5 linked regions of the Homo sapiens genome follow. The protein of the gene in region 1 interacts with the protein of each later gene in a pairwise test. Each region holds a gene or a part of one and is shown in the gene's direction. Other genes may lie near its edges. The genes, in order: FAM25A, TTPA, LCN1, ARMC10 and KLHL35.

Region 1 (6,403 bases):
GCATTTGGGATCTGTGTCTGGACCCAGCCTTGCCCAGAAGGCCATGGTGTGTTGTCATTAGAATCACAGTGCTCACACCAAGGCAGTGCATTAAATTAGCAGGGCAGGGTCTCATGGGCAGGGGACCATGTGGAGGGGGTGGGGGAAGGACAGTTGTCCCCCGAGGCTGCGGTGGGCCTGGCTCTGGTCTGGGCAGTGGGCCAGGGTCCTGCTGTGTGGCTGAGCTCTGACAACAGGCTGTCTGAGTCTGGTGAGCTCCTGAAAGCGGGGACTGGTGGAGAGTACCCTAGGGTGGGAGCTCGTGAGGAGGGGGTCTGTGGGGTCTGGAAGCCATTCTAGAGCAGGCAGATGACATTTATCAGCGGAACAGGCATAGAAAGGACCCTTGTGCGAGTGGGGGACACACAGCCTCAGAAGAAACAGGGAAGGGGCTTTGACAGGTCCAGGGAGAATCCCTGAGGTTTCCTAGAACAATTCCCACCAGCCATGTCCCAGGTGTCCCCCCATCCCCCAGGCCTCTGCAGTGCCAGCCCAATGCCCTGGGCAAAAACATCCTGGACTCTGGCTGTTACAAAAGGAGGACAGGGTCATCTGGACCCGCCTGAGCTCCAGGCCCCCGACTTTCACAGCCCCTTCTGGGTCCAGAAGTTCATACGTATATAAATGAAAAATGTGCAAGAATCATATTATTGTATTCTTTTTCATAAAGAGGGCCCCTCTAAATTGTTTAAGCCCCAATTCACCCCTGCCCAAAGGAGATAGCAATGGCATGTGTGGGGCCGTAGTCTTGAGACCCAGAGGTCCTGCTGCCCACGATACCCACTGTCCACCCTAGGGGGACTGGCCGTAGCCCTGGAGCCCGCAAACACCATGCAGGAATGCAAGAGGGTCTCAGCTCCCGAGTCCCAGGCTGGGAGGGCCCACAGTCCAGTAAACTAATCAGGCCCCAACACACCCAGGAGAGCAGCTCCAGGAGCCTGCATTGAAGAGAGAGCCTCAGACCCCTGCCACAGGCCTGCACCCCAGAAGTAGGAGGATGGGAAGACCTCTCCTTGGCTCCTGGCCAGCGGAAGTCACATTCCCCAGCCCTCTGGCTCCAAGGCAGCCTCACGTCCCAGTCACTCCTTGGCCCACCCTACCGGTTGGTCAGAGCTCACTGCCAAAGGGCACCTCAATGATGAGTGGAGGGAACAGGTGTTTACCAGGAGCTTGCATGCTTTGTCTCAGGGACGATTAGTGACACAGCCAGGAAGGCACGCTATCCCCATTTTACAGATGAGGAAACGGAGGCTCAGGTTGGGCTGGTGACTAAGGGAAGCAGCATGTGGCAGGTGGCTTGAGGCATGTCTGTCCATCATGAGTAACTAGGGAGCAGCCCTGCCACTCCTCATGTGATGCACCAGGAGCCAGGGAAGCTGCTTTCTAGGGGATTCTAGCTAAGGCCAGAAGCATCTCCCTGAGTGGTGGTGGAGGCCTCTGTCTACTCCTCCAGGACTGCCAGGGGATAGGAGGGCACTGCTGGCCTCACAGACACTCTTGGGTGAGTGAGCATCAGCTGAGCAAAGCCAGGTGACTACACTTCTGCCCAGTGCTGTGCCCCCCTCTGACTCAGGCAAGGCACCACCCTGAACGCCCCACCCTGTCCCATAGAGGCCACAAACTGCTCTGCAGAGCCAGGGTCTCCAGGAATGGGGAGGGCAGTCACCCTCACTCCACTTGTGTTCATGACCCAAAGGACTGCCCAGGTCTCCAGGCCCATAGAACCCCTAAACCTCTTACTAGGCCACACTGGGGACCTTGAGCAGCAGGCTTGGAATCCTAGGCCTTGTCTCCAGGTACATATCAGTACCCAGGCTTGGGAAGTTTTGGTCTCGGGGGGCTGGCACTCAGGCCCTCTGCCTCAAGGAAGAGGCATGTCCAGATCTCTCCTGTCCAGCCCTGCTCCCTGCCCCTATCCTTCACGGGGTCCCTAGGACAGGGTTACAGAAGCCTCAGGCTGTCAGGGGATGCTGCCACCCCAGTGCCAGGGTGGCTCCGCCCAGCCCCTTCCTGCTGCCGCCCTCGCTGACTCACCTGTCCAGCCTCCTACTGGGCTGGGGCAAGGGCTTGTTGCCCCAGAGCCTAGACAGGCACCAGAGGCAGCTATAAAAGCATGTTGGGCCAGTCCTCAGCATCCTAGTTCACCACTGTCTGCTGCCACACGATGCTGGGAGGCCTGGGGAAGCTGGCTGCCGAAGGCCTGGCCCACCGCACCGAGAAGGCCACCGAGGGAGCCAGTGAGGACCTGGGGCTCCTTTCTACCTGGGCTGGGGGGATCTGGGGCAGACTGGGTCTGTGGGAGGCGGATCTAAGTAGGCAGGTGAGGACCTGGGAGGAGGCCTTGGCCCCTCAGGAACCCTGGTCCCCTGCTCTACCAAGTCAGCACGGAGTTGAGGGGTGCAGACCTGGGGAGGTCTCCTGGGGGCAGGGCATGAGTCCTGGTGCTGGGTGAACACTGGCAGCTTGGACCCTTCCCTCTGGAAATCTGGGGAGCCTTTCTTGTCAAAACAGCCTATTCTGAATAACCTATGCAGGAAAAGGAAGATGGATTTTTATTTTTACCATAACTTTAAAGCTTCAAAGATTTCTAAACAAGTCACCAAGTCTGTTCAAAGTCAAAAAGGGCATTTTCAATTTCATCCAAGTCCCCTGAAGCATGTTTATTTTTATTTTTATTTGTATTTGAAATGGAGTCTTGCTCTGGCACCCAGGCTGGAGTGTAGTGGTGCGATCTCGGCTCACTGTAACCTCTGCCTCCTGGGTTCAAAGTGATTCTCATGCCTTAGCCTCCTGAGTGTCTGGGATTACAGGCACCCACCACCATGCCCAACTAATTTTTATATTTTTAGCAGAGACAGGGTTTCGCCATGTTGGCCAGGCTGGTCTCAAACTCCTGACCTCAAGTGATCCATTCCTCTTGGCCTCCCAAAGTGCTGGGATTGCAGGCGTGAACCACCGCACCTGGTCCCGAAGTGTATGTTGTATTCAGAGGTCAGCAGCTATGTGTGGGGAGGCCCAGCCAGGAGCCACTCATGGGTCATCGTGTGAAAAACAGTCTTGCCTGAGTTTGTGTCCTCTTTCTAAATGGCAGCAGACGCGTATTTTGTTTTTGACTCTGCAGCTGGTGTGGACCACCTGCTTTAACCTTTCACTAGCCTCTGAGTTTTGTATGATTCCTGTTGGGAGAAAAGCTGAGTGTTGGGAGAGAAGCTGAGGCAGGGCTTGCTAGATTGGCTGGCTCCTTGCTTCTAGCACTCCCATTTTCTCAAGTAGCCGTATGTTTCTCATTCACTTGATACACCGTTTCCTTTCAACCGCCACATCCTCACCACCTGTTTCTTTGTTAGATCACCAATAAATAGCATGGGTTCCCAGAACTCCGGGCCTTCGCAGCCTCCACACTCGCGATGGCGCCCCGCTCCCATTTTCTCTCTCAAACTGTCTCTTTCTCATTCCTTTGACTCCTCTGGACTTGCCGCCCCCGCGACCTGGTGTTGGGTCTCATCACCCCAACAGATTCCCATTCTAAAGATGAGGGAACCAAGAGGTGGAAGGTAGAGTTAGAATAAGAACCATTTCTTCTGACTCTGAAATCCTTCAGTTCTAGCATGCTACCACCTACACTTTAAAAAACTCTGAAGTAGGCAGAGAATTCCCTTTTGTTGGAGGAATTGCTTTGAGAGACCTGGTTTTACTGGATGAGGCTTTGGAAACCAACCTGAGGCAGGCGCTAGCACATCCTGAGAGGGGTGTGACCTGGCACAGAGGCCCAGCCTGGGCTTCATGTCTCAGCTGGCAAGATGGCCTGCTCATTGCCATTCCAGGCCGGGCAGGGCCAAGGGGCTTCAGGGACCCATGCCCTCATGGGGCTCACTGAGCTCGTCTCCCGGCAGCCAAGGCCCTGGCGTCTCCGAAGGAAGCCAGCTGTGGGGGAAGGTCCTTCTCATGAGCCAGTCTGTCCTGGCTGGGGGTGGCATCCCAGAGCCCCATCTAGGATGTCCAGGGATGTATAGGTCCATTGTGAGGATAAGCCAGCACTGAGCCCTCACCCTGGACTGGGAGGGCAGTGGGCCTGCTCTGAGCCCTCACCCTGGACTGGGAGGGCAGCGGCTCTGCTCTGAGCCCTCACCCTGGACTTGTCTCCTCTGTTCAGTTCATGCCGTGGAAGAAGTGGTGAAGGAGGTGGTGGGACACGCCAAGGAGACTGGAGAGAAAGGTACAGCTGGCTGAGGTCGGGCAGGGAAGGAGGGAGGGAGCAAGGGAAGCTAGGTGCTGGGCCAACCTGTTCTTTGACTAACCAGGTCAAACTCTGCCCCCAATGTTGCAGCCTTTCAGAGCCTCTTGGCTGGGGCAGTTATCTATGCTCATCAGAGGCCACAGACTGTACTGCGTTAGGGCACTGTCTAGATGGTTCTGTCTGTGGAATAAGAAGACAAAGTCACACAAGACTATGTGACAGCACACTGGGACAAAACATTTAACATGGCAGGGCGCGGTGGCTCACGCCTGTAATCCCAGCCCTTTGGGAGGCTGAGGAGGGTGGATCACGAGGTCAGGAGATTGAGACCATCCTGGCTAACACGGTGAAATCCCATCTCTACTAAAAATACATAAAAATTAGCCGGGCATGGTGGTGGGTGCCTATAGTCCCAGCTACTTGGGAGGCTGAGGCAGGAGAATGGTGTGTACCTGGGAGGCAGAGCTTGCAGTGAGCCTAGATCATGCCACTGCACTCCAGCCTGGGCTACAGAGTGAGACTCGGTCTCAAAAAAAAAAAAAGAAAAAAAAAATTGCTGGGTGTGGTGGCTCACGCCTGTGATCCCAGCACTTTGGGAGCCTGAGGTGGGCGGATCACGAGGTCAGGAGATCCAGACCACGGTGAAACCCCATCTCTACTAAAAATACAAAAAATTAGCTGGGCACGGTGGCGGGTGCCTGTAGTCCTAGCTACTCGGGAGGCTGAGGCAGGAGAATGGCGTGAACCCGGAAGGCGGAGCTTGCAGTGAGCCGAGATCGTGCCACTGCACTCCAGCCTGGGCGACAGTGTGATACTCCGTCTCAAAAAAAAAAAAAAATTTAACATGTAAAATTCTATGTTAAATGTTAAATTGATGTGTGTGAGCTATGAGTAGAACTATGTACAAAGCATATGTATATCTCATTCCTTTTCAACAAAATAGATTCCAGGTAGATGAAGGACTTAAATTTACATAAATGAATTTATTAACTTACTAGGAGATAACCATCTTAGCTCAGGCTGCTATTATAAAATACCATAGGCCAGGTGCAGTGGCTCACGCCTGTAATCCTAGCCCTTCGGGAGGCCAAGGTGGGTGGGCCACCTGAGGTCAGGAGTTCAAGACCAGCCTGACCAATATGGTGAAACCCCGTTGCTACTAAAAATACGAAAACCAGCTGGGCGTGGTGGCACATGCCTGTAATCCCAGCTACTTAGGAGTCTGAGGCAGGATACTCCCTTGAACCTGGGAGGCGGAGGTTGCAGTGAGCTGAGATTGCACCACTGCACCCCAGCCTTGGTGACAGAGCAAGACTCTGTCTCAAAAACAAAAACAAACCATAAACTGGGCGACTTAGAAACAACAGAAATTTCTCACACTCCTGGAGGATGGGAAGTCCAAGATCAAGGAAGGCACTGGCAGATTTGGCATCTGGTGAGGGAGTCTTTCTGGTTCGTGGATGGGCCCAGCTCTGTCCTCACATGGTGGAAGGAGCTAGCTCTCTGTGGTCTCTTTTATGTGGGTGCTAATTTCAACCTCCCAAAGGCCCCACCTCTTAATATCATTACATTAAGACTGAGGATTTCAACGTATGAGTTTTGAGGGGGAAGACATCATAAACATTTAGACATAGTAATAACATAAAAGACTTTGGCCTAATCTTGGAGAGGGGAGAATCTTTAGAACCATGACAAAAAAATCAGCGCCATAAAGGAAATATTAAGTAAATTTGACAATCCAAAACTGAAATTTTCTATAGCCAAAAAAAAAAAAACTATAAACCAAGCCAAAAGAAAAATTACACACTGATGAAAAATATTTGTCATAAAAATGATAATCCAATATAACAACCCAATATAAAAATGGTCAAAAGACATAAGCAGGCATTTTCCAGAAAAAAGGATAAGCAGGCAATGTACCCATGAGTAGATGCTCAGTCTCACTCACAGTTGAAGAAATGCAAGTTGTTGGGGAAATTAAAACCAAATTCAAATTCATTCTGCAGTAATCCTGCTGCCCTTGGTCCCATCGGGCCACTCCAGAGACTAATCCATTAAGATGGCCACATCCCACAGGCCACTCAAGGGGACACAAGTTCAGCGGGTGGATCACTAGGACATTCTTCC
Region 2 (5,851 bases), on another chromosome or scaffold:
GGCATTAAACATATATATGTATAGAGATAACTAACAATAAAACATGTTTCATTTACTAATTTCATTTTAGCTGCTTTAAAAAAAGTAATGTTTAAATAGAAAAATAAAATTGACCATCAGCCTCTGGGACATAATATATTTTTTTCTGTATTCCTTAAATAAGGAATTGTTTTCATTGTACCATGCCCTTGAGGAATTGGCTAGCAGGACTGTGTCTAAATCCACCGCATAGAAATCAAGTTTCTGTCTGTGAACTCTTTGTCTTGCTTTTCTGCCAACTGGAAAGGAAAAGGAAAGGGTAAGAGTGCAAAACTTTTTTTCATTTTCCTCTGCAATAGCACTTAATTCAACTCTAACTTCTTCATTCATAATATAGAAGCCCTATAGTTTTTGTATAAAGAAAGCTTGATAAGTGCCTCAGTCACAATGAAATTTCTCATTATTCTAGTGTTTGTATTTGAAGTTATGATGAATTAATAAGGTTTTATTATATAATCCTAATAGCTAATGTGCTTATAGAATGCAACATACTTTGGTAAGTAGGGTTTTCATGGATTATCTTTTATTATTTTCTCATTTTAGAAGAAACAGATATAAAGAGTAAGTAACTTGTCTGAAATTATGTAGCCATTAAGTGTTGAAGCAGGGATTTGAATTTGGGTTGGGCTCAGGAGAGAGCCTGCGCTGTCAAATACACTGCACTTGCCTCTTATATTTAAAACAACAAACATATAAAACAGCTAACCATTCACTTCTCTGCCTGTTCTACATAGTCTCATGAATTCCTTATATCAAGTGATAGCCTAGTTCCTTATACTTTTGTTCCATGTGATAAGCTTTTTATGCTATAATTATCTTTATGGTTTTCCCAAAGCTTTCCAAATTCCATAGATTCTCCCTGCTAATTTCTCTCTAAATGCAGCTTCTTTTATAAAATTTTTCATATCATGTGTCCATTTCAGTTTCCACTCTGCTCCTGATAGTTATTGCCTTTGAACAAATGTGTAATTTCTCATAGCTTTACTTTACTTTTTTTTTTTTTTTTTTTTTTTGAGACGGAGTCTGGCTCTGTCGCCCAGGCTGGAGTGCAGTGGCGCAATCTCGGCTCACTGCAACCTTCGCCTCCCAGGTTCAAGCGATTCTCCTGCCTCAGCCTCCTGAGCACGCACCACCACACCCAGCTAATTTTTGTATTTTTAGAGATGGGGTTTCACCATATTGGCCAGGATGGTCTTGATCTCTTGACCTCGTGATCCATCCGTTTTGGCCTCCCAAAGTGCTGGGATTACAGGCATGAGCCACTGTGCCTGGCTGGAGCTTTACTTTTCTTATTCTTATAATGCCACAACAGTAGCTACTTCTCAGGGTGATGGTGAGGAGGAATTCAAAAGATGGCATTAGACCCTATAAAAGTGCTCCAAATATGGTGGTTCTTATTTTGTTTCAAAGTACATGAAACATGTAAGAAGAAACCTACTCTGTTACAAAACATAGTTAACCCATAACATTTTAAATGTTTATTTACTTCTAATGTTTGCAAAACAGACACCTTCCAATGATGAATATTTATTTTTAGCCACTTCTTTGTTGTTGTTGTGGACATAGGGTGGTTTGTTTGAGAATTGCTCAGTAGCAGTTTATTTACATAATTTATTTATGACAGCTATACTGTGAATTTATGTATCAGTGGATAAGTAAAGACCAAAGTTCCAGGTTTAGATCTTTCAGTTTGCAAAAATTGTGCGAGATAGTGATTTGTGCCTCTTTACAGAAGTCAGTTTTTCAAGTGTGTGGTTCCAGTTGGTTTACTCATGACTTAATTTATTCTTTCATTCAACACGTGTTGTTATCTCCTGGGTGTGCAGCACTCTGCAGAGATGAATAAGCTGAGGCCCCTGCCAGTATTAAACCTAAATGATCCCTTCTAATGAAGCCACAACTTTTATCATTCCACAGGAAAAAAAAACACATTATTTCTATATAGTTACTAATGTGCAGCTTCCAGCATTTTACTTGAATTGGAATGAAAAAGATTTTTATGTCTGAGGAAACTATCAGAAAAGTAAAAAGCATTGTAAAATACTGTTAACAGTTATTCTGGTACCCCCTAAGACTGGAGGAGGAAGAGAAATGCACCGTGTAGAGTAGAATGAAGATATTAGGACCTACAATGTGCCTGTTGTTCTCATGCTTTTGGAAACTGCTATTTAGGTCACCAATTATTTCTTTGTTGGCAAATTGACTTTTTTCTTTCTTACTCCTCTCTTGCATTTAACTCTTAGCAACATTCTCTCTTTTTTCAAAGTTAAGAAAGGTTTATTAAATACAGAAATGAAATAGAGGGAGACAGACAGAGAGAGAAAGAGAGGGAGATAAATCAGAGATGGGGGTGAGGGGGAGCAGAGCAATGCAGATGGCACTGTCCTCCCTCTCGTGTACCAGTGCTGGTTCTCTTCAGGTCCACTCAGTTTCTGTCTTCCTCCAGCCATTCCCAGCCATTAACATTTCCCAAGGCTCAGCATTTCCCTCTCTAGTTTTTGTCGTTTGTAGTTTCTCCTCCAGATCATTGTGATTTTTGTGGTTATAGTTACCTTGTTTATTCCAATTACTCTCAAATATAAAATCTGTCATTTTCTCTGCACTGCAGTCTCACATTAATAAGTCTCTTTAAACTCAAAACAAATGTATTGTAACTTGTGAAAAATTGAGAGTGCCAAAAATCATGAGAATAAAATTAAAATATAAATATAATAATTTTTAAATACATAATTTGCTTTAGTATTTTCCACAATATGCTGGTAGTGTTTGTATGTTTGCGTATATGATTAGCTATTTCCGGTGGTTCTTTTGGAAAGAAAGAAAATGGGATTTCTTCAGACCATATTTTGACAAGATCCAGTATCCAAGTATACTGCTCCTGGGCTCTTCTAACTCATTTGATTGATTTCTATACTTCCTTATTTCAAAAAATACTAAAAGTGGTGTTTCAGCTTTCTATTGCTGAGCAACAAGTCACTCCAAGAATTAGTGGCTGAAAACACAATGATTTATTTGTTTTTGATATCACCAGTTTGGGCAGGGCTCAGTGGGAGTGGTTCATCTCTGTTCCACATGGCATTAGATGGGAACTTGGCTGAGGTCACACTATCCAGGATGTCCTCTCAACCTCCATGCCTCTCTCCACATGAATTGCTATCATTCAGTAATCTCACATAGTGTCTGGATCCCAAATAGTACATTCAGAAGGTACCAGGCTTCTTAAAGCTTGGCCCACACAGTATCACTTCTGCCAGTTGATATTAGATCAAAGCAAGGTGGAAGGCCAGCCTAGATTCAAGGGGAGTGAAGCAAATAGATGCCATCTCTTAATGGGAAGAATGGTGCATGGGTATCAGGAGGGGAGGAATTGGTGGCTGTCTTTGGAGGATATCTACCATGGGTGGTGAATGAAAGTTGCTCAGCTCTGAATTTGTGATTAACCCCTGTCACCTCAGATCCTTGATAAAAGAACTTTCAGTTTTCACAGCTGAAAAGATACCCTAGATTAAACTCTTGACATAATGGATGGCAAAGTTTATACACAATGCCAAAGCTTTTCTTCCATTTTTACAAAATCATTACCATGTATGCCATTTGTAGACAATTTTAATTTTATTTTTCAGTTACTAAAAAACTATTATAAGTGGAGAGCAGAATGTCCAGAAATAAGTGCAGATCTACACCCTAGAAGTATTATTGGCCTCCTAAAGGCTGGCTACCATGGAGTCCTGAGATCCAGGGATCCCACTGGCAGCAAAGTTCTTATTTACAGAATCGGTAAGTCATACACAACTCTTTTTTTTTTCTCCTCTCCTCCAGTTCAGTTGTGTTCCCTCCCCTCTCCTCTTCTCTCTTTCTTCCATTTCTTCCTTGAATACCATATAGAAAGCTTCAATGCATTCATCTTTAGGAATTTGGGCTTTAATTTAAAATTTTAGGTTTTAACTTAGATTTAATTTAGGTCTTAATGTCCCCCAAATATAATAACACTTTGGTAATTGTGAGAAAATTAACAGATACAAGTGAAAATCCTAGTTCCATTCTTCCACACAGTCAACTGTACAAAATAAGAAGAAAGGAAAATAGTGAAGATGAATAGTGTGAGAATATTTTAAAAAATCATGGAAAAGTGTTTCAAAAATGCTTAGTAGGAAGTGCAAATAAGAATTCTGAACTATTGGCTGGGCATGGTGGCTCACACCTGTAATCCCAGCTGAGGTCAGGAGTTCGAGACCAACCTGGCCAACATGGTGAAACCCCGTCTCTACTAAAAGTACAAAAATTAGCTGGGTGTGGTGGTGCATACCTGTAATCCCAGCTACTCGGGAGGCCGAGGCAGGAGGATTGCATGAACCTGGGAGGCAGAGGTTGCAGTGAGTCAAGATTGCGCCATTGCACTCCAGCCTGGGCAAAAGAACAAGAGTCCGTCTCAAACAAACAAACAAAAAACAACCAGAATTCTGGGCTATAATGTAAACTCCATGAGATTGTGGATTTCATCTACTCTGTTTGCTGGTGTATCCCAAGCACTGAAAACATGGTCTGGTACTTGGTAGGTAGTCACTAAATATTTGTGGAATGAGTGAGTGAATGACTAGTTCGAAAATGCCCCAGGCCGAGGAGCAAGAGGCTCATTCTCTTGGGTGGAGGAGGGTGCAGAGGAAAGGCAACTCCTCTGGGAGCTGTTGCAGACACGGTATTCCATTAACTCCTGTTTATTCTCATTGCATCCCCTTTTTTTCTATTAGGTGTAGCTAGTGTTTCTTGTAGGTTGGTGTCTTAGTGTATTCAGGCCACTATAACAAAATGACGTAGACTGGGTGACTTATAAAAACAGAATTTTATTTCTCACAGTTCTGGAGGCTGGGAAATCCAAGATCAAGGCACTGGCAGATTTGGTGTTTGGTGAGGGCCTGCTACCTGGTTCCTAGGTGACATCTCTCACTTTAACCTCACATGTTGGAAGTGAAAAGGCATCTCTCTTGGAACTCATAAGGGCACTAATCCCATTCATGAGGGTTCCATCCTCATGACCTCATCATCTTGCAAAGGGCCCACCTCTTACTACCATCACTTTGGGAGTTAGAATTTCAGCATATGACTGTTGAGGGGATGCAAACATTCAGATCATAGCAGTTGGTGACCTATAACTTCTGTCCTCCCTCAGACCTGCATATGATTAAAAATGGCCGGCACAGGAGAACGACTCACACTATTCCCAGAATTTCTCATGGCCCAGTTGAAGGACAAAGATAAACCAACATTTCATGACCAGAATTTTTTAATTATAATTTTACAGAAACAACTATATCTTTAAAGATTTAAAATATTTAAATATTTGCATTTCTTGCCTGCTTATAGATAAGATACCTGCCTGTAACTCAACTGCTTGCCATACTGCAAGAAGTTACTGTATTTAATTTTTGAAAGGATATTGGAAGATCGAGTAAAATGATTTGGGGCTGTTTTTTAATTTTTTTTGCCCTAGCTTAAGTGTCAAATAAAATTGAGTTAATCATGAAATCCCATCTATAAAACAGACATCATGATCTTCCTGTTCTTTCATTGCTGCACCAGTGTCAGAGGAAATTGAATGAGCTCATAGCAATGAAGTTCCTTGAGCTTCTTAGGGGTAGTCTTGCCAGATTTAACAAAGTACCTATGTTTTATTTAGGAAATAAACCTATATGTTATAAAAATAAAGGATGCCCAGTTATTTGAATTTCAGATAAACAACAGTTTTTTTAAAGTATGTATGGAGCATTCTTATGTTAAAAATTATATACTGGTTATCTGAAATTCAACTTTAATT
Region 3 (6,319 bases), on another chromosome or scaffold:
GAATTCTGAGCTATTCTGTTGCTTTGTTGCCATTTTAGAAAATGTTTTTCTTTCAGAACTCCTATTCTGTTTATATTGGAACCTCCTGATCTATTCTCCATGTGTGTTAACTTTGTGCATGTGTGTGCATGTGTGTATGTGTGTGAGTGTGCATGTGTGTGTGTATGTGTGCATGTATGTGCATGTATGTATGAATGAATGGTGTGTGCACGCGTGTATGTCTGCGTGTGTATGTGGGTGTGCATGTGTATGGGTTTGTGTGCATTTGTATGTGTGCACATGTGTGTGTGTGCATGTGTGTGTGCGTGTGTGTGCATGTGTGTGTGTATATCTCTGTGTGTTGTGTTTTCAGAGCTGCTGCACTCTAGTTGGTTTCCTCCACTCATTTTATTACTAGCTCCAGGCTGGAGACTGAATCTATCTGTAACACCTCAATTTCTCTTTTGAATTTTTCTGCTTTCATTGATTTTGTTAGTACTATCTTCCATGACACTAAGTCTCTTTTCTACTATGTCAAGTCTGGAATTTAACCTGTCTATTGAGTTTTTTATTCACTTTATTATTCATCTTCAAGATTTGTAATTATTTCTATTTCGTCTCTCCTTATTTCTTATATTCTGGCCAGTTCTAATTTTATACTTTATATATTTTTAAATCACTAGGCATCTTGATCATACTCCTGCAGTTTTAAAGTGTGTGTCAGACTTTCCTTGGCTGGTGTAAGTTCCTGTACCAATTGCTCATTTTTAGCCTGCCTTTCTTAGTGTGGTGTTTCCTTGGGTAATTTGGAACCTGGCCTTTCTAGCTTATTTCAAGGTGAGGATATTGTGTCTCTGCATTTCTGCCTTTCTCTGCCATCTTGTTGTCACTGTCCTCTGTCTAGCAGTGTTTTGTAGCCTCTGCTCCCATCCCGGGTCCCAGGCTTCTGCTCTGCAGTGATGCAGAGCATGTCACAGATAAAGTCATCCTTTCCAAGGACGGCTTGTCTCAGCTTCTGCCCTTGAGGCTGTGTTGATGTCCTCTTGCCTTCCTATGCCCACAGTGCTCCACTAAGTTATACGAAGTTACAGCCCTGGGATGTGTCAAGGAGGGTTTCTCAGCCTTCTTTCTGGAGTCAGGGAAGCCCCTCCCATCACTCCCAGGAGCCGGACCTAGGCCCTCTCTGCCTGCCTTGGGACTTGGAGCTGACAGGCCCCTGCCTCTGCCCCATCACCAGCCTGTGCTTCTCCTCCATTCCTTGTTTTATGTGAGTGTGTGTGCGTTTGTGCATGTATATATGTACACACATGCATACACACACACACACCTGTCTTGGTCTTCTGTCTGTCTGACCTATTGCTGCTCTGTGTGTGGAGCAGAGAGGGTCGTTACTGCACACCTTGCTCAGGACAGTGGACACCGTCTTTAAATGCACACGGGATCGTGTTCACACAGGAGGGTCCCTTTTTTTCCATGATGAATCTGAGGCCAAGTAACCTGCCCAGAGATGCAGGAAGCTCAGCTGAGCCCCAAGCCCACGGCCCTCGGACTCCAACCCCAAACCCCCTTGACAGTGTGCACGTCAGCAAGTGTGGGATGGCTGGGGGGCATCTGTTACGGCTGCACACGTCCCCAGGAGGCCTGCACACCCTTCACTCCCTTCAGTTTCCCTTCAGGTGAAATCTGCAAATCTGCTCCTCTGGACCTGGTCCTGTCCAAGTGATCCTCTGGGATTAACAAGCTGTTATTCACCAGCCTCCAACAATAATGGCAGGTTATCTGCTCCATTGCAGAACTGGCAGTGGTTTACATCCAGGAAGGGATTGGTCAGTCTCCTGTGCCAGGTCCCTGGGGGACCCTGAGCCCAGCGGTATAAAGGGCGGCTGTGGGAGGACTGGTACAGCCTCTCCCAGCCCCAGCAAGCGACCTGTCAGGCGGCCGTGGACTCAGACTCCGGAGATGAAGCCCCTGCTCCTGGCCGTCAGCCTTGGCCTCATTGCTGCCCTGCAGGCCCACCACCTCCTGGCCTCAGACGAGGAGATTCAGGATGTGAGGCCCGGATGGGAAGGCTGGGCTGGAGGGGGCAAGGGGCGAGGCTGAGACTGGATGGAGACCCCATGCCTCCTCCATCCAAGGAGACCCTCGTTTTTGGGTTGGGCATTCAAGCCCTGCCCTGAGGGAATGGTGGGATGGGGCAGCAGGGGTCTGGGCTGGCAGGGTAGGTGGCGCAGGGGTGCAGAGTGGGCAGGGCTGGGAGGGTGGGGGTCTGGCTGACTTCACTTCTTCCCTGGGGATGAGGGCTCCTGTGGTCCTGGCTGGCTTGTGGGGGCTGGAGCCACCTTCAAGTGGGCCTGGCGAGGGTGCTGGGTGTTTTCTGGGTGGGTTAGATTGGGGAACGTTCCCCGTTTCCAGCCCTCGGGGTGCGGTAGAGTCTAGGGGCTGCAGGCCAGGGAAGGGGGAGGCTCTGGAGCAGTCGGCCTGAGCCTGATAGAGAGGGGCCTTCTCCAGGTGTCAGGGACGTGGTATCTGAAGGCCATGACGGTGGACAGGGAGTTCCCTGAGATGAATCTGGAATCGGTGACACCCATGACCCTCACGACCCTGGAAGGGGGCAACCTGGAAGCCAAGGTCACCATGCTGTGAGTGTCTGCCAGCCGGCCGGGCAGCCTGCAACCTGGTCTAGGGCCTTCCCTTTCCCCACCCAGGAGAGCTCTGGTGCTGGGGAGGTGGGCAGACCTGCTGGGAGGCCTCTCTCGGCCCCTCCTGCAATGCTTGAGGGCAAACTGTGCCACTGAGGTGCCTCGGCTGGAGGGGCCCTGAGGGGGCAGAGGCCCCGGATCAGACCCTGTGGGCTACCAGTGGCAGCCCTGGGTACCGCCCACTTCCTCCTCCGACTAGGGAATGTCTGGTGACGTGCAGGCCCCTTTGGGAAAAGGTGTTTACCCCCGACCAGAGTCAGAGCCAGTCCTGGCAGTAAATTTCTGCTTTGGAGAAGTGCAGGGATGGGGCTTGCAGAATGACCAAGAGGGGGCATAGGAGAAGACACCATGGAGAAGACCCCCTTGAAATCCCTGTGTAGCGCTCACCTGTGCGGCTCTCACCTGGGCTGCTTCCACCCGCGTGGCTCACATCTGTGACTTCCCACCTGTGTGATTTCACCCGCATGGCTCCCTCCTGAGTGGCATGCAGTGCCTGTGCTCCGGTCCTGGGGGCTGAATCTCAGGAAGTCACTGACCCTGGCAATGACCCCGATTTTTTTTTCCCCCAAAGCCCCTCACTGAACCTTTCCCTCTCTGGGCCAGATGATGATGGATATGGGGCTTGTGCCTGAATGTCTCTAAAAGGAAGAATGCAGCTGGCGGGATGAGGCTCAGGCCCACGCCACAGACGCTGCCTGCAAACCAGGCAGCCTGGGTGCCTCTGGCAGGAAATGTGTTGGGGGCGGGGGGTTTGGGAAGGCAGCCACCAGGAGGAGCGGTGCAGAGCTCCTGGCCATCTCGGGAGACCCCGGGAACTGCCGCATGGGACCCGGAGGGGCCGCTGGTGCCTGGGTCTGAGATGCAGAGAAGCACCCTCCTCCATGGGCCTGTGGCAGACTCGGGGCCACATTTGCAGGGCATTGCAGCATGGTTGCTCCAGGGCCGGGGGAGGCACAGGCCAGGGCCGCTTTGCCAGGGGGCTTCTGTTTTCCAGGATAAGTGGCCGGTGCCAGGAGGTGAAGGCCGTCCTGGAGAAAACTGACGAGCCGGGAAAATACACGGCCGGTGAGTCCCGGGGCCTGAGCCAGAGCCTGAGCTTGAACACACGCTGGATGTGCGGGGGCAGCCAGTGCCTTTTTGGGGTGGCCTTTTGGCCTGGGAAGCCTTTTGCTGCCTTCTGACTCCACTAAAAGCCCACTCTCTTCTCCCACTGGTCAATTTGCATTAGAGACTTGAACACCTGACCCCAAACACCAGGTGTGGCAGGTTTGTCCCGGGGCGGACCCTCTGGGCTTGCCCTGTAGCCCTGGCTGTGGCTCTGGCAGGGCCAGGAGCAGAGTCGTATTTGGCTGCGGGGGGCTGTACCCCAACTCCCACCTCCGCAGACCTCATACCCGGAGGAACCCCCCGTGACTCACTGGTTTGGGATGTGGCCGCCTCTTGGGTACATCAGGTTCCTGGGAAGTGGGGGTCCCATGGCCTGGGGCTCAGGCCTGGTGGGGAACCTGGGTCAGGGAGCTCTGGGAGGCTGGGAGGGTGCAGGAGCTGCGGGGCTTGCTGGGCCTGGCAACGCACGCTGTCCCGGGATCCTCTCTGAAGTCCCTGGTGGCTAATTCAGGAATGTGCTGCTGTCTTTCTGCAGACGGGGGCAAGCACGTGGCATACATCATCAGGTCGCACGTGAAGGACCACTACATCTTTTACTGTGAGGGCGAGCTGCACGGGAAGCCGGTCCGAGGGGTGAAGCTCGTGGGTGGGTCCCGCACCCTCACCCTGCAACCCATGCCTCCACCTGCCCTCCCTCCTCCCTCGGCCTCCTGCACCCTCTTCCCCATGGGAGAAGCCACTGGGACCCAGGAACCCACTGCAGTTTTCTTAGGATGAGTTTTCCTGATAAAGGCCTCAATTCCCACCCCTGGAGTTCAGGATTTGGGATGCCCCGGCCTCGGTATCTGCAGCAGAGGCAGGAAGGAGCCACGGCTGCAGGCACAGGGGTTCAAAGGTCACACATGTCCCAGAGTGGGCCAGGCCCTCCCCCGGAGCAGCTCCCTGCAGTGTCATCCTTGAGCGCGTTCCTGTGGGGTGTCCAGCAGGAGAGAGGAACAGGGATGTGAGCAGAAGTCTGCATGGAAAGAACGTTCCAGCTCCCGGGGTTGAATTCCGGACGCGGTGCCTCCCACAGATGGTGACTCATCAGTGCTGTCCCTGTCAGAGGACGAGGCCCATGAAGGCTCCTGAGTTCTCCCTGGAGCCAGGGGTGTGCGAATGACAGAGGATTGGGATCCTGGTGCCCCCAAGGGGAGAGGCGCTTCCTCCAGGGTGGGCCTGTCGTGCCGTCCATCCTCACTCCGGGAGATGCTCAGGGATGGATGGAGAGCCCTTCCCGTTCTCCCGGTTCTGCTGCCACAGGAGCCTTCTCAGCCGTGCACGGCACCCTGGTCCCACTTTGCCAGCCTGAGGGCCTCTGGGTTCAATTCCCCCCACGGTGGGCGAGGTCCCCTTCCCCAGCCCAGCTCAGGCCTCCAGACTGGGATGGGGTGCCGTCGGCCCAGTGCTGCCTCGAGCACCCACATCTCGTCCTGGCACCCACAGGCAGAGACCCCAAGAACAACCTGGAAGCCTTGGAGGACTTTGAGAAAGCCGCAGGAGCCCGCGGACTCAGCACGGAGAGCATCCTCATCCCCAGGCAGAGCGGTAGGAGGCATGGCCCTGCAGAGCCCCCCATGTCCCCGCGTGGGGACATCAGCAGAGCTGCATTGCACGGGCGCATAACTGTGCTGCGTCTAATTCTGGCTTTGTCCTTCCTGGGGTGGTGGAGCTGGTGGCTGATGAGGGGCCCCGGTCCTGACTGCATTCCTGGGGTCTCCTAACGCCTGTGCTTCCTTTTCCTGCAGAAACCTGCTCTCCAGGGAGCGATTAGGGTGAGTGAACAGCTTTAGAGGACATTTGAGAAAATCCAGTTCTGGGGCTCAGTGGTGCTTCCAGAGGCCATGGGGTCTCTCCCACCCATCCCACTCCTACCTGGGTGGGAGATGCCCCACGTAGGTCAGGCAGGTGGGAGCTCTGCTCCTGAGCTGCCCACGCTCGGGCGTCAGACTCCGTTCTTGCCCTGGGTGTGACTCCTGGGCAGCTGGGAAGCCCACAGCGCTGAGCCCGCCTTTGCTGGCTGCTGGTGGAGACGGTGTCTACCCCCCAGTCACATGGGCAGGAGCAGGCAGGAGATTCGGGTTCCTCCTCAGCACCCCTCACCCTCGGCCATGCCTGTGACTCCACTTACCCGATAAGTTGCTCAAAGATTCAGCAAAGTGGCAGGCGTGCCTGTGCTCGCTGTGTCAGATGGGCCCCTTGCTGGCTGCACAAGGGGACCAGAGTTTGGAGACTCGCCCAAGGTCACCTGCCCAGGTGTGGGCAGAGCCAGAATCCTGGACAGCATCGCTGTCCTTCCCGCACCCTCCCCTTGGCCTGCAGTCACCCTGATGCCACTTCACTCAGCAGGGAGCTCTGTCAGCAGCCTGCGGGGGTGGTCCCTGCTCCATCCGCTCCAATCTAGAGGCTGGAGCCCCCACCTGCAGCCCCCAAGAGTCCGTGTGTGCCCCCCACACCATCGCCCCCAAGAGCTCGCATGTGCCCACCACACCATA
Region 4 (5,851 bases), on another chromosome or scaffold:
CCCAGGAGGCAGAGGTTGCAGTGTGCCAAGATTGCACCATTGCACTCCAGCTTGTGCGACAGAGCAAGATTCTGTCTCAAAAAACAAAAAACAAACAAAAAGATTTACATTTGTATCAAAGAAGCAGAAAAAGGAGTTTTGTTTTGTTTTCAGACAGGGACTCCCTCTGTCACCCAGGCTCGGTGCAGTGGCGCAATCACAGCTGCAGCGGCGCAATCACAGCTGCAGCCTCCACTTCCCTGGGCTCCTCCCACCTCACCCCACTAAGTAACTAGGACTACAGGTGCACACCGACACCTGGCTAATTTTTCCAATTTTTTAGGAGATGAGTTTTCACCATGTTGCCCAGGCTGATTTGAACTTGGCTTAAGCAGTGCTCCTGCCTCAGCATCCCGAAGTGCTGGAATTACAGGATTGAGCCTCCTCACCTGGCCAATAAAGGATTTTTAATTACAAGTTTGCACGAGGGAATGCTTTAAGAAAAAGGGAGTGGAAGGGGAAGGTCTCTCTCACTTTTGCCACTAGGTATAATTCAGCTTTTTTTTTTTAAAGATTTGTATGTACCCTTACTGTATTAGTCCATTTTCTGTTGCTTATAATAGAATATCTGAAACTGGGTAATTTATTAGGAAAGAAATTTATTTCTTAGAGTTATGGAAGCTGAGAAGTCCAAGATTGAGGGGCCGTAGCTGGTAAGGGCTTTCTTGTTGTGGCATAGGGCATCCCAAGGCCAGAGGGGCAAGTGTGTTAACATGCTGACTCAGGTCTCTTGTTCTTATAAAGCCACCAGTCCTGCTCATTAATCCATGAATGGATTAATTCATTCATGAGGACAGACCCCTCATGATCCAGTCACCTCTTAAAGGCCTTACCTCTCAATACTGCCACATTGGGAATTAAGTTTCGACATGAGTTTCGCAGGAGACATTCAAATCATAGCATTTACAAAGCCTAATTTGTTGTCTTTGCCCATGTCAGAGATATTTTTGTATAAGTACATTGGGAAGGTGTCCTGGACTCAGATATCTTCTCAGTTATACTGACTCAATCTGATGAATGTGGACAGTCTTTTAAACTTAACAGTTCCCATAATCATCATTATCTTAGGTAAGGCAGCTTAAAAAATAATTTGCTCACAGTCCCTTCTTCCTGAAGCTACTCCTTTATCATTGAAGAAGACTTGAGAAATGCTCATTTCATCATCAATATGGTTTGGCTTTGTGTCCCCACCCAAATCTCATCTTTTTCTTTTTTTTTGAGACGGAGTCGCACTCTGTCTCCCAGGCTGGAGTGCAGTGGCATGATCTCAGCTCACTGCAACCGCCACCTCATGGGTTCAAGCGATTCTCTTGCCTCGGCCTCCGGAGTAGCTGAGATGACAGGTACACACCATGTGCCTGGCGAATTTTTTTTGTATTTTTAGTAGAGACAGGGTTTCACCATGTTGGCCAGGTGATGTGCCTGCCTTAGCCTCCCAAAGTGCTGGAATTACAGGCATCAGCCACTGTGCCCGGCCCAAATGTTATCTTGAATTGTAATCCCATAATCCCTACATCGTGGGAGGGACCCGGTGGAAGGTAATTGAATCACGGGGGCAGTTCCCCTCCCCTCCATGCTCTTCTCGTGATAGTTCTCAGGAGATCTGATGGTTTTATTAGGGGCTTCCCCCTTTGCTCTGCACTCCTTCTCTTTCCTGCTGCCTATGAAGAAGGAAGTGTTTGCTTCCCCTTCCACCATGATTGTAAGTTTCCTGAGGCCTCCCCAGCCATGTGGAACTGTGAATCAATTAAACCTCTTTCCTTTATAAATTACCCAGTCTCGGGCAGTTCTTCATAGCAGCATGAGAATGGACTAATAAAGTCATCATCACGCTTAGATTTCAGAAGATGATCTTTTGTTTTTTGTTTGTTTTGTTTTTGTTTTTTTTTGAGACGGAGTCTTGCTCTGTTGCCCAGGCTGGAGTGCAGTGGCGATCTTTTCTTTGTTTTAAACTCACACCTCTAATCCCTTTGGGAGGCTGAGGTGGAAGAATCGCTTGAGCCCAGAGTTCAAAACCAGGCTGGGCAACATAGTGAAACCCCATCTCTACAAAAAATAGAAAAATTAGCCAGGCATGGTAGTGTGCACTTGTAGTCCCAGCTACTCAGGAGGCTGTTTTGGGAGAAACCCTTGAGCCCAGGAGGTCAAGGCTGCAGTAAGCTGTGATTGTGCCGCTGCTCTCCAGCCTGGACAAAAGAGCAAGACTCTGTCTTAAAAAATAAAAAATAAAATAATTTTTGTACTAACGTGGTTTGAGAGCATTGAAAAAGACGGAAACAGTCCCAATTCATCCAACAATCTAACGTCATAACCTGACAAGGATGGTAAGAAAAACTATAAATCTGTCTCAACTATGAATAAAGATATAAAAATCTTAAAATATTAGCAAGTCAAATCTATCAGGGGATTAAAGTAATAATATACCAAGGCCAAATGGACATGGAAGGAGGAGTCATACTAGAAAAAGGAAAAGCCACATGATGACCTCATAATAAAAAGGCATTAAAATATTTCTTTCCATAGCTGAAGCTCGGGGAAAAAAAAAGAAAAAAAATTTTATCATTTCTGATAAAAACTTGCAGCAAGTAAGGAATAAATAGAAGGAAATGTTCTTAAGTTGATCAAGTACATCCATCAAAACCCAAAAGCAAATATCGTATTTAATAGACACACTAGTTAGTAGCATCCTTATCAAACTCAAGAACAAGAGAAGGGTGTCTGCTATCACAGCTACTATTCAACGTTCTTCTGGAGTCATAGCTTGATAAGAAAACAACATGCATAAATATTGGAGGCAGAATTATAATCGTAGGTGGCATAATGATTTACTTGGAAAAATCCAAGAGAATTAACTAACTACTAGAAGCAATGAGTTTAATAAAATATCTTGAGTACAAGTAAATATACCCAAATCAATAACTTCTTGTATACATGCAGTAACAATTCAAAATTTTAATTGAAAATATTTTATTTGACAGAATGAGACCCTGTTTCAAAAAATATATATCATTCATGATAGCTATAAAAACTTTAAAAATTAGGAATTCACTTTAAAAACTAGGAGTTCCTGTAGTGAGAAGATAATTTTACTGAAGGGCCTAAGACTACATAAACAGGCATATTGTGTTCCCAGTTGGAAAGATTCTGAACCATGACAGTTATCTTGAAATTTGTCTTGCTACGTTATAATGTGGTAGTCACTTTTCATTCCCTTTGAGAATTCTAATTTCTCCTTGATTTACTGGAGGAGACCACAAACCACCGAGCCTAAGATTCTTTCACAGTCTTGTTGGCACAGAGCTAGATGGAAAGTAGAACACATGTTTGACTCCTCACCTGTGTAATAGCAGTCCAAAAACTCACCAGTGGAAGAGCTGAGTATTTGATGATCGCCCTCCTGTAAAATTTTTAGAGTTTTAAGTTTTACATTTCTTTACTAAAAAGTTATACATGGTTTTTGTTTTGTTTTGTTGTTTTGAGATGGAGTGTTGCTCTGTCGCCCAGGCTGGAGTGCTGTGGTGCGATCTCAGCTCACTGCAACCTCTGCCTCCCAGGTTCAAGTGATGCTTCTACCTCGGCCACCCGAGTAGCTGGGACTACAGGCATGTGCCACCACTGCTGGCTAATTTTTGTACTTTTAGTAGAGACGGGGTTTCACCATCTTGGCCAGGCTGGTCTCGAACTCCTGACCTCAGCTTATCTGCCTGCCTTGGCCTCCCAAAGTGGTGGGATTACAGGTGTGAGCCACCGTGCTGGGCCGATAAATGGTTTTTATTAGAAATTCAAAGAGAATATATAGAATTAAAGTATAGGCTCATTATTTTATTTTTTATTTATTCATTTATTTTTTGAGATGGAGTCTTGCTCTGTTGCCCAGGCTGGAGTGCAGTGGTGGGATCTCGGCTCACTGCAACCTCTGCCGCCCAGGTTCAAGCAATTCTTCTACCTCAGCCTCCGGAGTAGCTGAGATTACAGGCATGTGCCACCATGCCTGGCTAATTTTTGTATTTTTAGTAGAGACAGGGTTTCAGCATCTTGGCCAAGCTGGTCTTGCACTCCTAACCTCGTGATCCGCCCATCTCAGCCTCCCAGAGTGCTGGGATTACAGGTGTGAGCCACCGCATTCAGCTAGGCTCATTATATTAATATACTAGGAGGAATAATGGTTGAGAGGAAAGAGTAATGTAGGAGTAAAAAGATCTGGATTCTAAAGCCACTTTTGCTATTATTAATCAGCTATGTGTCCCATTAATGAAAATAATATACTAGTCACTTTAAATATTCTAGGTACAAAAGTGCTTTGAGGTAGGCACTATTAACTCCCACTTAGCAGATGAGTAAACTGAGGCTGAGAGAGCCTAAGTCTCTTACCTGGTAAGTAGCTTATTTGGGAATTTGAACTAGACAACCTGACCCCATAGCCTTGGCTTAGTTTTAACTACCACATTGTGCCTCTTCCCACCAAGTGAGAATTCTGTGATACAACACCGTGAAATTTTATCGTTAGTGATTTAATCCCTAGAAAAATTTTAAATGGCTATTTATAAAGAATTTATACATCTATAAGCTTTCTCTTTTTTAAAAACAAAAACAAAAACAAGGTTTCATTACTGTCACGCAAGCTGGAGTGCAGTGATGCAATCTCAGCTTACTGCAACCTCTGCCTCCCAGGCTCAAGCAATTTTCCCGCCTCGGCCTCCCGAGTACCTGGGATTACAAGGCATCCTGCACCACGCCTGGCTAATTTTTTTCTGTTTTTAGTAGAGATGGGGTTTCACCATGTTGGCCAGGCTGGTCTCAGACTCCTCAGTTCAAGTGATCTGCCCGCCTCAGCCTCCCAAAGTGCTGGGTTCACAGGCGTGAGCCACTGCACCCAGTCTATAAGCTTTTTAAAAATGACTTCATGAGATAACATAGAGTGGTATGATTTTGAAATATCTCAAATATGGATGAGTTAAATTTATCACATTTCTGCCATGCATGTGCACGTGTATGTATGCATGTGTATATGAAATCATACAACTTCAGGGCTGTGTAGGAAACTCTGGAGCCAGTTACAGTATTAAGCCAACCCTTTTATTTGCAGATGAGAAAACTGAGACCCCCAAAAATAGTAAGTGACTTACTTGTAACTTTGATTTTTCATTTCTGTGGTTTCTGCTACTAACTACCCCTGTGACTTTAGGCAGATCCTTGAACAATCCTGGCTTCAGTTTCTTCCTGTGTAAAATAAGAGGTTTGGATGAACCCCAAATTCTTTCCGTTCTAAAAAGTTGTGTTTTTATCATTCTTTCCTTTATCTTTTCAAGTATTCTTTGGGTGAAACGCTATTTTATAAGGTGTTAATGAGGCCAACAGTGTATTCAAAAGTAAAAGGTCCTGATTAAGACTTGGTAGTGAGAATATTCTAGCTTTGTAGCTGTGACATTTTCTTAACATTTCTTATTTGGCTTCCTCAGGGCATCACATATTATATATCACGTACCACATATTGTTTCCCATGTGTAATCTATACTTGTCCCTTTATTTATTTTTGTGTGTGTGTGTGTGATTCTTCTTTGAGCAATATACTTAGTTATTTTAGTTACAGAAATAATACCTGTTTATTGCAAAAAAAAAAAAAAGTACTGTTGAGTACAGGGTAGAAAATAAAAGTCCTTCATAATCCCACTACCCAAAAATAATCACCTTTAACAATTTTATTTACTTATTTTTTTTTTAATAGAGACAGGGTCTCATTATGTTGTGCAGACTGGTCTCGAACCACTGGCCTGAAGTGATTCTCCTGCCTCCCAAAGTGCTGGGACTACAG
Region 5 (5,851 bases), on another chromosome or scaffold:
AAGCATAAAACACAGTCCTTGCTCCCCTGGAGTGTCCTGGAGAGGAGAGAGACTTCACTTTTACTGCCAGGCAGAATGTGATCAGAATTCTCAGAGTCCCCAGATGATCTGGAATGCCACTCAGGGAATCTAGCCAGGGTTCATAGAAGAGATGACTTTTCAGCTGGACCTTGAAAGTTGGAGGGAACAGTATGGGCAAAGGCACAAGGGCAGGGACATGCAGAAAGGAACCCTGGGGACTCAGGGCTCTGAAGTGCAGGTTGAGTATCACAGGTGAGGCAGGAGTCAGATCAGGGAGGCTTTGAGTCTGGGGCTAGGTGGATTGACCTTAATGTTGTAAAGAACTATGGGTGCCTGCAAAGAGTAAGGAGCAGGAGAATAAGCCAGGGAGGCCTCACAGACCATCCAGGCCACAGATTACCACTGGACAATTTATCCAAGGCCATTGATGGCTCTGAGCAACATGTGGGGCCTTTGTTGGGTGCCACTAGGAATAAACAAAGATGGGGCTACCAAACAGATGTGGCTCTGGTCACAGGCTCAGGCTGAAGGGTGCAGTTAGGGTTGTCCCCAGGGAGGCTCCCATTGAGAGGTGAATCCCTGGCCAAGATCCCCAGGGTGGCCAGACATGGGAAGGGAGAGTCCACATCCTGCATCCCCAGTACCTGGCCCCATAGGGCATGCCATGTCCTCCAGCAGCACCAATGCTGGGCCTGGAGCCAGAAGCTCTGGTTCTGGCTCTGACAAAAGGCCATGTAGTCTTCAGCAGGTCATTGTTGGTCTCTAAGTCTCATCTGAGTTTCTTATATGTAAACTGGGTCTAATATTCCCAACACCTCATGGAGGGATGAGATCAGAAATGAAATTGTGCAGGTGAAGGCAGAAGGGAGGGAGGGTTATTGGGTCACCCTCTACCTATCCTGGCTCCCAGTGCAGCTGGCTCTGCTTTTCCTGGATCCCCAGTACATTCCAGATGCTTGCCTTAGGTACCCTTTGTACTCTTACCTTTAGTACAGCGGCCCCCTCTTTGCTTTCCTGAGCACAGAGCCTGGCACACCACCACCACCACCACAAGGTGCCCGGCGAAAACCAGCCCCTTCTTCCTGAATGTGTCAGGCTTCTCCCCTCGAGGGTCGTAACTCAGACATTCCCACCACTTATTCAAAGCACACTGGGTCACAGGTCCAGAGTCTTACACCAGCTCAAGAAGTCCTCCTGCTGCCTTCCCTTAACCCTTCCTTTGGATCTGGGGGCCCTAGTTTCTAGCTCTTTGGGGGTGCTTGGGATAGCAAGAGAGCCGATGGGCAACAGCTGCTTCTCTCTCCCTAGGAGGCCACATCAACAGTCATGATGTGTGGATGTTTAGCTCCCATCTGCACACCTGGATCAAGGTAGCCTCTCTGCACAAGGGCAGGTGGAGGCACAAGATGGCAGTTGTGCAGGGGCAGGTAGGCACGAGCTGCAGCGGCTGCCCTGGGACACAAGGTACAGATCTGTGGATGTGCTGGAGGGAGGTTCTCTAAAACCCTCTCTTTGTAAGAAGGGGTCTGAAGCCCCCCAAAAAAGGAGACTTGTCCAAGGTCACATAATAATGGCTGATGCTAATAATAATAGCAATTACTGTAATAGTAACAGCCTGATGGTCAAGGGTATGGGCTCTGGGGCCATAGAGTCTAGGTTTGAATCTTGACTGTGCCACTCAAGAATAAAAGAATCTGTCGGCCGGGCGCAGTGGCTGTAATCCCAGCACTTTGGGAGGCCAAGGCGGGCGGATCACGAGGTCAGGAGATCCAGACCATCCTGGCTAACACGGTGAAACCCCGTCTCTACTAAAAATACAAAAAATTAGCTCGGCGTGGTGGCTGGTGCCTGTAGTCCCAGCTACTCAGGAGGCTGAGGCAGGAGAATGGCATGAACCTGGGAGGCGGAGCTTGCAGTGAGCCCAGATTGCACCACTACACTCCAGCCTGGGCAACAGAGCGAGACTTTGTCTCAAAAAAAAAAAAAAAAGTCAATTATCTTTGTAAGCTACATCCCGAATTCAGAAACAAAGATGCTTCTTAGAATCAATTAAGTGGGGTGGTAAAGTCTCAATACTAGCTATTATTATTAAGCATCAGCTTGGTGCCAGGTATTTTACAGCTGTAACCATGCAGGTTAAGGTCTCATCCCCGCTAAATGAGAGGAAACCGGCTCAGGGAGGTACAGCAACTGGGTGGAGGCTGCCCAGGTGGTGGCAGCACTGGGCTCGGGGGTCAGTTTGGTCCTGAAACTGGGTTGGGGACAGGGATAGTTTCCAGCTCAAAGACTGTAAGGACTGAAGCGATGAGGCCGAGGGCCCTAAGGCCCTGGCACCCGGCTCCCCGGCCCATGTCCTCACTTGCAGCTGTTCGCGGTGGGTGGCTTCGACGGCCTGAGGCGCCTGCACAGCGTGGAGCGCTACGACCCCTTCTCCAACACCTGGGCGGCCGCCGCGCCCCTCCCGGAGGCCGTGAGCTCGGCGGCGGTGGCGTCCTGCGCGGGCAAGCTCTTCGTGATTGGGGGCGCCAGGCAGGGCGGCGTCAACACGGACAAGGTGGGCGTGGGCCTCAGGCGCGAGAGGGCGTTGAAGGCTGGGGTGCCCACTGTGTGCCAGGCGCAGAATTGGGCGTTTCCATGCCCTTGTCCATTTATTCACTTAATCCCATCAACAGCCCAGACCAGTCACCTCCATGTTTCAGGGAAGGAAATGAGCAGAAAAATGACCCCAAGGTCACACAGTGGGTCAGCAGCACACTGGGACTCAAATGTTTGGGCTGGTGCCATGTAAGTTTCATACATTTTAAAAATTGAGGGCAAGATAGTTAAAATGCTTTTGTTCCATTCCAAAAACAATACACTTACTACTGAAAATTTAGAAAACACAGAAAAATAGAAAAAAAAAAAACCCATAATCCCACCGTCTAGGCAGAGCTGCTATTCATATTTTGGTGTGTTGCCTTACAGGCTTCCACTGAATTGATTTTTGTTTTTCTTACAGTTTTGTTTTGTTAGAATTTTGCATTCTGCATTTTATTCTAATTTAGGTATGAGCATTTTCCACGTGATTATCAACTTTACAGCCATCATTTCAATGTCTGTACTATTCCACATGGTGGATGAACTAGAGTCTACTCATCTTTTATTGTTGGGACATTTAGGCTTTTTGCAAATAAAAATATTTATCATAGCAGTTCCTTCCCTCCCCTGATGGCCTCATAAGCCTGTGGTCCTAGGACTTGACTCTTTCCCAAATTAGGGTGCCCACGCTTCCTTATTCCCTGACCACATTCTTCCAGCAAACCCTCCTGGAGCTGAGTGATAGGCACTCATGGTGGGAGGCCCCATTTAACACCATCCATGCAGCACTGATTTGTTATAGGCTGCTGTGGGGGGAGGGGGTCTCCAAGGAAACAGTTGAGGAAACAGAGAGTGAGGTGAGCAGGCAGCTAAATACAGAAACTGTTAAGGGCATCAGAAACACCCATGGGCATGTGGACAGCTGTAGAAATAGGGCTGCAAGACACCTCAGCTAGAATCTAATGACCTGAGAGCACCAGGAAAAGAGAAGGGAGTTGACAGTGTATGCAGCTAGGAACACATCCCCGTCGGGGGTCTGCTCTGAGGACCCTCTATAACCCTAAAGCAGACAGTACCTCTCCCAGCTCAGTATGATGTGCTCTATGATTAATCTAACATGAGGCGACTGTGTTCTCCATCAAAGGAGAGACTGTTCCTGTGTGTGTGTGTTGAGGGGTGAGGGGAGGGGGGAACACCAGGGAGACCTTTAAGGATGGGGTGGCATTTGAGCAGGACCTCGAAAGATGAGGAGGCTTTTGACAAAGGGAGTCCAGAGGCAGAGGACAGAACATAGAACTAGATGAAGAGCCCTTGAGGGCAGGGACGGTGGACCTCCCCCTCCCTCCCAGATGCTGGCTCAGGCCTGGTGGACACTGGCAAATGTCGTTTTGAATGAGTGCCCCCGGGGGGAGAGGTGGCAGCATGTGGGCGGTGGGGCATTTGTTGGGGGGGGCGGTGAGTCTTCACCACTGCTGCTCTTGCCCCTCAGGTGCAGTGCTTTGACCCCAAGGAGGACCGGTGGAGCCTGCGGTCACCAGCACCCTTCTCACAGCGGTGTCTCGAGGCTGTCTCCCTTGAGGACACCATCTATGTCATGGGGGGTCTCATGAGCAAAATCTTCACCTATGATCCAGGCACAGATGTGTGGGGGGAGGCAGCTGTCCTCCCCAGCCCTGTGGTAAGTGGAGGCTTCAAGGCAGGAGAGCGGAACCCGCTTCTAAGGCTCTGGATCTTGGAGCTTGTGAATCTTGTGACTCCATCCTAGGTGGTTTTATTATACATCACTCTCTAGCTCATCCTCACAGTGATAGTGAACCATGCATTTCACAGATGAGGAGACTGGCCTTAGAGAGGTTCAGCACCTGGCCCAGGCCAACAACTAGGCCCTGTTAAGGCAGAGCCTAGAACCCTGCAGTCCCAAGTGCTATAGCTTTGAGTGGGGATTTGGTCCAAATGACCCTGTGGTCTCTCCTGCCCCGAAGGCCACTGCTAGTAACCAATCATGAGGTAAGATGTGGGGAAGGGAGTTGCTAAGGTCTGCTCTAGTGATATCAGAGCAGGGAGGCCCAAGTCCTGGAAGCTCTGGCCCCTGCAATTCCCTGCCTCCCCTACCTTCTTCTCCATCCCCTGAAACTCCAGAGACTACACAGATATGGTTGGACTGGAGGTCTCTGCCAGTTCTGACCTTTGGTGACCTTAGAGGTGAGATTTCTGGCTTGAGTCTGAGATTCTAAGATGGCGGCAGTCGAGATTATTGTTATTGGTGTGCTTACCACATTCCAGGCTCTATGTAAAATGCTTTATATGCTTAACTTCCATTAACTGTTAAGGGAACCCTGTGAAGAAGGCACTTTAGTTCTTCTCCCTTTGCCGATGAGGAAACTGAGGTCCAGAGAGGTTAAGTGACTTGCCTAACGCCATTCACTGAATAAGGGTCAAGCTAGAGCTGGAACTCAGGTCCATCCAGTTTCCTGCCTCTCTACAGTCCAGATTGCCTGTTCACAGTCTGTGGGTCAAGGTTCTATTATCTGGCCTGGCCAGGCAGGGACAGAGGAAGCCCCAGGCTGGACCTGATAGTTGTCTTTCTGTTTGTCCACCCAGGAAAGCTGTGGAGTCACTGTGTGTGACGGGAAGGTCCACATCCTTGGCGGGCGGGATGATCGCGGAGAAAGCACCGATAAGGTCTTCACCTTTGACCCCAGCAGTGGGCAGGTGGAGGTCCAGCCATCCCTGCAGCGCTGCACCAGCTCCCACGGCTGTGTCACCATCATCCAGAGCTTGGGCAGGTGATTCAGATTTGGACAGCCTGAGCCAGGAGGCGGAGAGGCAGGCGGAGCTCAGATGCACACTCTGCTCCCTCATGGCACCTCCACGCAAACAGCCCTTAACTTAATGGTCCCTTTTCTTGTATAAATAAAATCTTGTTGGGTCTGTGTTCCAGCTGCAGTCTGCCCTGCCTGGAGATGGAATGTCTAATATTTGCTCCCTGTGTTTACTCTTGATGAAGCACTTTTATACCATTGCAGTCTGTCTGGGCTACTATCACAAAACACCTTAGACTGGGTGATTTATAGACAACAGAAATTTATTTCTCACAGTTCTGAAGGCTGGAAAGTGCCAGATCAGGTGGCCAGCAGATCTGGTGTTTGATGAGGGCTCTCTGCTTCCTAAATAATGTTTTCTTGCTGAGTCTTCACATGGGAGAGGGAGGCCAGGCAACTCCCTCCAACCTCTCCTATAAGGCTCTAATCTC

Evidence for each region.
Region 2: the proteins of FAM25A (region 1) and TTPA interact in binary tests that used the Homo sapiens proteins (3 or more experiments, as listed by UniProt).
Region 3: the proteins of FAM25A (region 1) and LCN1 interact in binary tests that used the Homo sapiens proteins (3 or more experiments, as listed by UniProt).
Region 4: the proteins of FAM25A (region 1) and ARMC10 interact in binary tests that used the Homo sapiens proteins (3 or more experiments, as listed by UniProt).
Region 5: the proteins of FAM25A (region 1) and KLHL35 interact in binary tests that used the Homo sapiens proteins (3 or more experiments, as listed by UniProt).

Annotation. Positions count from the first base shown.
Region 1 is NC_000010.11:87,018,122-87,024,524, forward strand, and holds the start of FAM25A (protein FAM25A), read left to right. Parts: upstream 1-2,172; 5' UTR 2,173-2,203; coding exon 2,204-2,276; intron 2,277-4,192; coding exon 4,193-4,255; intron 4,256-6,403.
Region 2 is NC_000008.11:63,070,900-63,076,750, reverse strand, and holds part of TTPA (alpha-tocopherol transfer protein), read left to right. Parts: intron 1-163; exon of another isoform or gene 164-298; intron 299-3,662; coding exon 3,663-3,816; intron 3,817-5,851.
Region 3 is NC_000009.12:135,519,560-135,525,878, forward strand, and holds the start of LCN1 (lipocalin-1 isoform 1 precursor), read left to right. Parts: upstream 1-1,880; 5' UTR 1,881-1,938; coding exon 1,939-2,028; intron 2,029-2,487; coding exon 2,488-2,618; intron 2,619-3,672; coding exon 3,673-3,743; intron 3,744-4,320; coding exon 4,321-4,431; exon of another isoform or gene 4,432-4,943; coding exon of another isoform or gene 4,944-5,270; coding exon 5,271-5,372; coding exon of another isoform or gene 5,373-5,548; exon of another isoform or gene 5,549-5,572; coding exon 5,573-5,598; coding exon of another isoform or gene 5,599-5,599; intron 5,600-6,319. UniProt on the Homo sapiens protein: Could play a role in taste reception. Could be necessary for the concentration and delivery of sapid molecules in the gustatory system.
Region 4 is NC_000007.14:103,076,757-103,082,607, forward strand, and holds part of ARMC10 (armadillo repeat-containing protein 10), read left to right. Parts: intron 1-5,125; coding exon of another isoform or gene 5,126-5,152; intron 5,153-5,851. UniProt on the Homo sapiens protein: May play a role in cell survival and cell growth. May suppress the transcriptional activity of p53/TP53.
Region 5 is NC_000011.10:75,422,117-75,427,967, reverse strand, and holds the end of KLHL35 (kelch-like protein 35), read left to right. Parts: intron 1-1,329; coding exon 1,330-1,448; intron 1,449-2,386; coding exon 2,387-2,575; intron 2,576-4,087; coding exon 4,088-4,276; intron 4,277-5,199; coding exon 5,200-5,388; 3' UTR 5,389-5,574; downstream 5,575-5,851.